Linked DNA regions of Homo sapiens. The protein of the gene in region 1 interacts with the protein of each later gene in a pairwise test. Each region holds a gene or a part of one and is shown in the gene's direction. Other genes may lie near its edges.

The links. The genes of interacting proteins can lie anywhere in the genome.
Region 2: the proteins of SREK1 (region 1) and CKAP2 interact in a two-hybrid assay, tested with the Homo sapiens proteins (one large-scale study listed by BioGRID).

The regions. Positions count from the first base shown.
Region 1 is NC_000005.10:66,149,573-66,155,263, forward strand, and holds part of SREK1 (splicing regulatory glutamine/lysine-rich protein 1), read left to right. Parts: intron 1-3,890; coding exon 3,891-4,024; exon of another isoform or gene 4,025-5,691. UniProt on the Homo sapiens protein: Participates in the regulation of alternative splicing by modulating the activity of other splice facors. Inhibits the splicing activity of SFRS1, SFRS2 and SFRS6. Augments the splicing activity of SFRS3.
Region 2 is NC_000013.11:52,474,803-52,477,127, forward strand, and holds the end of CKAP2 (cytoskeleton-associated protein 2), read left to right. Parts: intron 1-92; coding exon 93-339; 3' UTR 340-1,825; downstream 1,826-2,325. UniProt on the Homo sapiens protein: Possesses microtubule stabilizing properties. Involved in regulating aneuploidy, cell cycling, and cell death in a p53/TP53-dependent manner.

The DNA.
Region 1 (5,691 bases):
GATTTCAACTAGGGGTATTTGGAAATGTGGTTTTAGTTTTCAGTAGTGCTTACTTAACATTTACATTCCTTCACAAAAGGATCCGTCAGTTTAGGAAATGTTGCTTCAGAGATGACTGTCAGGCTCTTGAAGATTTCAGAGGCAAAAGAGTTATTCCTGTTGGAATTGCTAGGGCTTTAGTAGGTTATTATAATCACAGATTGTTTTTGGTTAAAAAGGACAGAAACAGTGTTACCCAAGGTACATCGAGAAGAGACATTATTATTAAAAAGAAAGATTTCACTGCGTTGAAAAATAAAGATTGTAGTACAGCCAGGCCTCATGGGAACTAGTACTGGGAACCAGAAGGGTATCAGCAATCAAGATGACTATCTGCTTCTTTCTCTGCAGTGGTTATTATCAGTTCAGTTTGTTTCTATCTACTCCATTTCTTTGCATACCTATTATGTACTCATCATCTGGCTTACAGCTTGCTGTAAGTCACCTTCCAGCCCAATAGAGAGAACCTGATTGATTGATCTAGCTCATTTGGTCGAGCCTGACTTCCAAAATTAGAGGTTGCTGGTCAGCCAGGGAAATGGGCCCTTGAGACTGGTGACTAATCATTTATGGCTAGAGAAGCTTATAGGATCTTTTGAGGGTTTCACATGAGGAAACCGTGCTAAGGCCTGTGCCAAAGCAATATAGAATGTCTTGGTAGCACATGTAGGAGGCTGTACCTAATGATTGCGGTATCTTAAGATGGTTTACCAGAAGACTTGGAAATTTGAGCCTTGAAGAAGAGTGGAATTAGCATTCAAAATGGGAGTTAGCGAGGACATCGTAACCAAATGGAACAGCATATATGAAGACCCATATGTTTGTGATGTGTTGCTGGAACCACAGGTATCATTTTTGGGTGCATTTCCATGACGAGGCAAGAACAGAATAGTACCTTTAAGGAAATTTGATATGTGGAGTGACACAATGAAATTTAGTGTTTAGAAAGATCACTGTGGGAGCTTTGGTGGAAGACCATTAATAAGGATTTGAGGTTGGGTGCTGTGTGATTTCTTAAAAGCTGTTAAGTAATCCACATGAGAAATGATGAGGGTCTGAATTAAGGCATTGGTAATGAGAATGATGAAAAAACTAATGTGACAAATATTTACAAGGTACTCTAAGCAGGATATATTGACCAATTGGATGAGGACAGAAAGGTCAAGGATAATTTATCAGTTAGAATAAGTAGAGTTTTGGAAATAACTTCAGATCTTTGTAGTTTGACAATTTTTTTTTTCTTTTTTGAGACACAGTCTCACTCTCTTGCCCAGGCTGGAGTGCAGTGGTGTGATCTCGGCTCACTGCAAACTCTGCCTCCCGGGTTCAAGCAATTCTTGTGCCTCAGCCTCCCAAGTAGCTGGGATTACAGGTGTGTGGCACCACACCCAGCTAATTTTTGTATTTTTAGTAGAGATGGGGTTTCATCATGTTGGCTAGACTGGTCTCAAACTCCTGACATCAGGTGATCTGCCTGCCTCTGCCTCCCATAGTGCTAGGATTACAGGCATGAGCCACCCTGCCTGGCTGACAAAATATTTTTTAGACTAAATTCGTGGGGGTGGGAACTTTACTCATTGTGGTTATTCACTCTGGGATGAAGTTGATGAGTCCCAGCCATCTTTTGAATGTTGCCAGTCGTTGTGGTGGAGGAAAAGAGTCAAACAGTGGTTCTCAGAGCTTCTTCAGAATAGTGACACATGTCAGTTCTGCTCATATTTAACTGACCAAAGCAGGTTACATGGCCACACCTAACTTAAAGGAACAGAAAAATGGAATTTTATTGTGTACCTAGAAAGAGCTTTGGAAGTAGTTGGTGGGCAGTGCTTAGGATGGTCACACTAGTGACTCCTAGGTTTCGGACTTGGGTAGTATGATATCTTTTACTGAAATATGGAATGCAGGGGACAGAGGGCAAGACTGGTAAGGAAGGAGGTTGATGAATGTATTTTCAACTTACTTAGTGACCATCAAGGTGTAATATTCCAGCAGGCACTTGTACCTGGGAGTCTAGAGCTCACAAGAGGCCTGAATTGGTGATTTGGTCATGTAAAGGTGGTGAGTTAAGTCTGGATGTGCATACAGTTAACCTCAGTGTCAGTACACAAGTTGCTTTGACTTAGGTGTTGGGTTGGGTAAGGAGGGATTTTTGTTGAGGGCTGATGTGAATCCTGAATTGGATGCCCTTAGGCAGAAGTGAGTTGGATGCTAAGAGGTACATCCTTTTTTTTTTTTTTTTTTTTTTTTTTTTTGAGAAGGAGTCTCGCTCTGTTGCCTAGGCTGGAGTGCAGTGGCGCAATCTCGGCTCACTGCAAGCTCCGCCTCCCGGGTTCACGCCACTCTCCTGCCTCAGCCTCCTGAGTAGCTGGGACTACAGGCGCCCGCCACCACGCCTGGAGAATTTTTTGTATTTTTAGTAGAGACGGGGTTTCACCGTGTTAGCCAGGATAGTCTCGATCTCCTGACCTCGTGATCCGCCCGCCTTCCGCCTTGGCCTCCCAGAGTGCTGGGATTACAGGCGTGAGCCACTGCGCCCGGCGGTACATCTTTTATTTTCAACTTTAATTAGCCTTACTAATTGTGTTAATAATGTAAATAGTTTTAAGTTCTAAATGCAGATTCATTTTATTATCACATTGTTTGGTTAATAGCATAAATATATATAAATTTAACCGTTATTAATGTGGTTATTCTACGTTGTTTAAAGATGGTTTTGTTCCTGGACGTGAAGAATTACAAAGAAATCTGGATTTTTGGATTTTAAAAACGGCTAATGTTTGTGGAATTGCTAATTTAATAGTATGTCAGAATGGTTTAAAGATTCTTGATTAGTTGAATGATTACAGTTGCATGAAGTTTGGAATTAGATGATTAGACATTAGATGTTAACTTTGCGATTTACTAGTTCTGGAATTGTAGTCAGTTTTCTTTCCTGTTTTGTAAACAAAAGTAAATGACTATTAAGTCATATATTTTTCAAGTGATCTCTCTTTTTTTAGTGTGAAAAATCTTAAATGTTTCAAATAGATTTTAATATAAAATCTATGTTACAGATTACGTATGTACTTAGTTCGGTCTTTTTTTTCCTGCTAAAGACAATTACAGATTTTAATGAAAAGTAATTATGGATAGGCTGACAAAATGATTATCCATGAGGATAGTATATTTTCGAATCTAACAGGATGTATTCATTTTAGGAAAAGTTCCTTTCATTTGTGCTTTGTCTGGTTCATTTTTAGTATCGGCCTGCCTGGATTAAACTGAATCAAGTAGGACCAGTTAGAGTCTTTGTTGCCTATAAAATATGTAAGATTTTGTTTGTAAAATCTTTTGTCTGGAAAATCATCACTGTCCAGCTCTGGTGTATGCAAAATACCTCAATTTAAATTCCATACTACCTGACTCTTTCTAAGACTGTTGTGAAGTTTTTTAGTGATGTAAATGCTTGGGAAACACATTTAGGAAGAGTTGGAATGATGATAAAATTTGAAATCTTGAGGTTTGGAGCTTTTATAAAGGGATTTTTGCTTACATATGATACACTTTTTGAGTTAATTTTTGGGTTAAATTAGCTTTTTTTACATTCACTCGGATTAAGGATTGATTAATTTGAGTTCCAAGTTTTACAAGTAAGGCAGTAGGCCTGCCTGGATTGCCTTCTGTTGTGGTAGACAAATCACCATTAAATGACTAAGTTTCACTGTTTTATGTGTTAATGATCCTTAATAACAAAAAGTTTTAAAGTCTTAATTTCGTAAGATTATGTAAAGGTTAAGAAAGAAATTTTAAGTGAAAATGATAAAACCAAGCAAATGTTTATTAGTTCAATTGTTTTTCTTTTTATCTTGCAGCAACGCACCTCTTGCTTTTTCCTCCAAAGTATGTTATGTTAAGTTTCGTGATCCATCAAGTGTTGGCGTGGCCCAGCATCTAACTAACACGGTTTTTATTGACAGAGCTCTGATAGTTGTTCCTTGTGCAGAAGGTTGGTATCTCGCTTTTTTTCCTCTTATTTGAATTTCTGTCCTGTCTGTTATTGCCTTTAGCTTTCCTAGAGATTGGCAAGTAGACAGTACTCTTGGTGTGTGTGTGAAAGTAAGAATGAAATTTGGAGGAGGTAAACCTTTTTACCTAATAGTAATATTAAAATGGTTAATTTATGACATGTACATTTGAGGTTTTACAATTTAACATTCATTGGCTTCTGGTTTGCTTTGGCTTTCTGTAGTCAATTTGCAGATTGCAAAGAAAGCTTTCTGAAATTAAAAAATAATTGATATGGGAAATTATTTTAAATGCATAAACAAGCATTTACCTTGTGTGTTCAATATTAATACTATTACAAATGAAAATAGTGTACACATTTTGGCAAATTGGGGTTAAGTGATATTTATAAGAAAATATTTGTAATTTATACTTTCAAGTACACTCTTAAGGTAATTTACCTTAATTGTTACTATGAGATCATTATTTTATATTCAATGTAATTGTTTGCTTTGCAACTGGAATTTAATGTTTTCTTTTACTGGCCCCAAAAAGGGGCAGGAGGAGTGTTGGAAAAAAAGGAAAGCAATTTTCCAAAGCCTCCATGAAGGAAGTAGTTGTTGAAGATAGGAACAAAGGCCTTAAAGTATCCATTAAATTTTATGACCTAAACTGCTTTAAGAACTAATTATTACTAATATTTTTTAGTAACTTCTGTTTACAGAGCCACTCACGTATAATAGACTGTGCTGAATTTTGACACTTCTGGTGTATAATTAACTTTTATTCAGAGCACTGACTAGCATGTGTACAGGATTTTAGAATTGGGTTATTATAAATTAAAATGTCTTAAAGTAGATTTTCTCTGGTGGATGATTGAAACTGTTTTAAACATAAAGGTTTATGGAAAACAGTTTGATGGGCTTTCATATGTAATTTTTAAAACCTCTTTTAGTGGCCAGGCTGACATTAAAATAATATATAATAAGCAGTTTGCTGCACTTTAAAGGTTTTATGCTTATTTCAGAATGCCTGTTCTGGGATGTCAAAAACATTACAGTCTAATACAGTGAGTACCAGGCTCGTATTTTTTAAGTCCCAGAATAGGACATTCTCAGTATTTTTCAGATAAATTTGGAAGTGTCTTTCCCATGCTTGGGGGTTAGAGTGGGTAGGGAAGATAAAAATGGATTAAAGTTAATTATTGGCCAAATGTATCTTTATCTGCTGATCTGTAAGGCTACAGTAAGCCCCAAATTGGTGAGGTGGGAAAGGAGCTGGTGAATGGTTTCGTTCTACAAACTTTGTAGTGAAATTTCATACTGAGAAACTGCATGGGAAAAAAGAAATCAGGTAAAAGGTTTATTAAACTGGAATATTAATTATATCAGAAAATTAATACCACCAATAACACTGGGTCTTTTATTGTGTTAGCTTATTACTGAATTGGAAGGAAGAATTTTATCAGTGTTGCTTGGTTGAAACCTGCTTTATTCCCATAGAATCTTTCATATATCTGAGAAGCCCTACTGTATTTTGTTATAAATGTTCAAGATGATGGGCGTGTAGATGTCCCTTTTATTGTTTATTTTACTTGATAGAGATGAATAAATGCACAGTCAGATGTACCTTTTTAGTGTTTTTAATATTACAACTTGGACAGTTTTA
Region 2 (2,325 bases), on another chromosome or scaffold:
ATACAAGCTATATAGTATGGTACATATCATGAAAGTACAGAGTAAAAATGTTAACATGTTTTTGAACTCTGGAATATTGTTTTAATTTTCAGTGTGAAAAAAAAGGTGCAGTTTGATGGAACAAATTCCGCATTTAAAGAGCTGAAGTTTTTAACACCAGTGAGACGTTCTCGACGTCTTCAAGAGAAAACTTCTAAATTGCCAGATATGTTAAAAGATCATTATCCTTGTGTGTCTTCATTGGAACAGCTAACGGAGTTGGGAAGAGAAACTGATGCTTTTGTATGCCGCCCTAATGCAGCACTGTGCCGGGTGTACTATGAGGCTGATACAACATAAGAGAAATAAAGCTCTGTTAGGGAATGGGGTTTTTATTATTTGTGGGGTGTTTTGTTTTGAGTAGCTTTATATTGCTCTTAGGTCTGGAGTTGGCCATGTACCTATGTATCCTAAGCATTCACGGCAGTGAGCTCCTTTACTAACATTCATGTTATGGCAAGAGTTGTCCTCTACATTGGAAAGCTAATCCTACCTTGTCAGTTTCAACCAACTGAGTTTTTTCTTTAAGAAAGGTAAATTTTGTCAGCTAGTTTACTATGTTCCTTGAATATAAACAGGTTATAATACTACCCTGTTCACTTTACTAAATATAAGTACAGTAATGATGCATAATTAGAAAATGAGGTATTCTAGGTAAAATGTATGTTTGCCTTGACATGTTTTTAAAAGTTATGATGTACCTCCCTGCCTTTAAACAGAATACTTTTTTCTTTTTTTTGGCCTTTCTCAGATTAGTCAAAAATTCTATAGAATGACTCACTTCGAATACTAAGACACAGGAGGTTTAGCCTGCTTTCTTACCAAATTCATGTTACCCAGACTTGTGTTCTCTTGCGTCCCTTGGACTGCCTGTTGATTGATGGAAAGTGTCTGCACTGACACTTTTCGTCAGTAGTCTGTAGTTTCGTGGCCTCTTTTGATTATAACTGGGGTCACCAAGAAGGTTTACTTAATTAAATACCGCATTTCTAAGAGAAGATACTTTGTGTAAGAAAAGATGCCACATTTAGTGGTTTAACTTTTGTAACTTCACTTGATAGTTTTTAAGCAATTAGAATGGAGTTAGGGAAAGAACATATCATACTGAACAAATGTCATTCTAGTTTAGATAGCATTTCTAAGATAACTGATACTAATACTTGTTTTCTTCCCTATAACATAAAAAACTTCACTGTTAAGTCATGTCCCTTGAAACATGATAGTTACATACACAGTTTTCTCTCCACACATAAATAACACCACTAAAGTTGTTTTGTAAGGTTCCAAACTAATATGGCATATATCAACTCTACAGTTTCAAATAAATGACTTTTTAATTGTAAAAGATTAGTTGAAAAACTGTATGAATGTGAAGATCACATGCTTAGTCATTTTTATGTTCATTCCACTTTGTATATCTTTTCTATTTATTGACTTCTCATGTTCTAGAGAGTAGGACTTTTATTCCGTGTACCTGATATATATACAATTAAAATATCTGTGTAATTATGTTTTAATGAAGTTTATTTCAACAGATATTTTATGAAATGCAGTTTAACCACAGTGAATGAATTTTAGCTTTGCTTTTGAAATACATTGTAAGATTTGACTTGAGGTTTTTGACACTTAAGTACATGCTTAATGATATATTTTCAAAAGTCATCAGTCTACTTACATAAACTTTACCTAATTTTTTTCACTTTAACAAAAACATAACTATGCCCTTGTTTTTTCATACTTTGACCCAAAATATGCCATTTTGAAATAAAATTTAAGCTTTGATACACTCTCAGCTTTTTAATATCTGTACCATATAATTCATTTGTCTGTATAGCAGAGTTTGAAATGCCTCTGTTAGAGAACTCAAGATACAACTTTTATGTTTGGACAAGTTTTTAAGAGTGTTTTTTTTCCTCCTTTACCTGAGGGGAAAATCTGTCTCTAAATATTCCTAGTTCTAACATTCAACCAGAGGTCTAACCCCTTTTCTGGTGCTTAAGGACAGCTATGTTATCTCTCCCCTAGGTTTGTTCCAAGCTAAATGATGTGATACCGTGCATAAGCATCCAGTAGAGACATAACAGGGACCCCTCTTAAGGGCCCGCTTGGATCTTCCCGTGTATAGTAATAAAGGAAAAATCTTGAGTCTCTTCAAGGGAAATTCCAGGTAGCTACCTAGCTAGCCTCAAAAAAGTAAATTGAACATCCTGGAATAAGGAAAAAAATGTTTCGTTTCCTATAGTAATGAAAGAACATCTTGACGCTGAATTTTTTGGAAACCCAGAT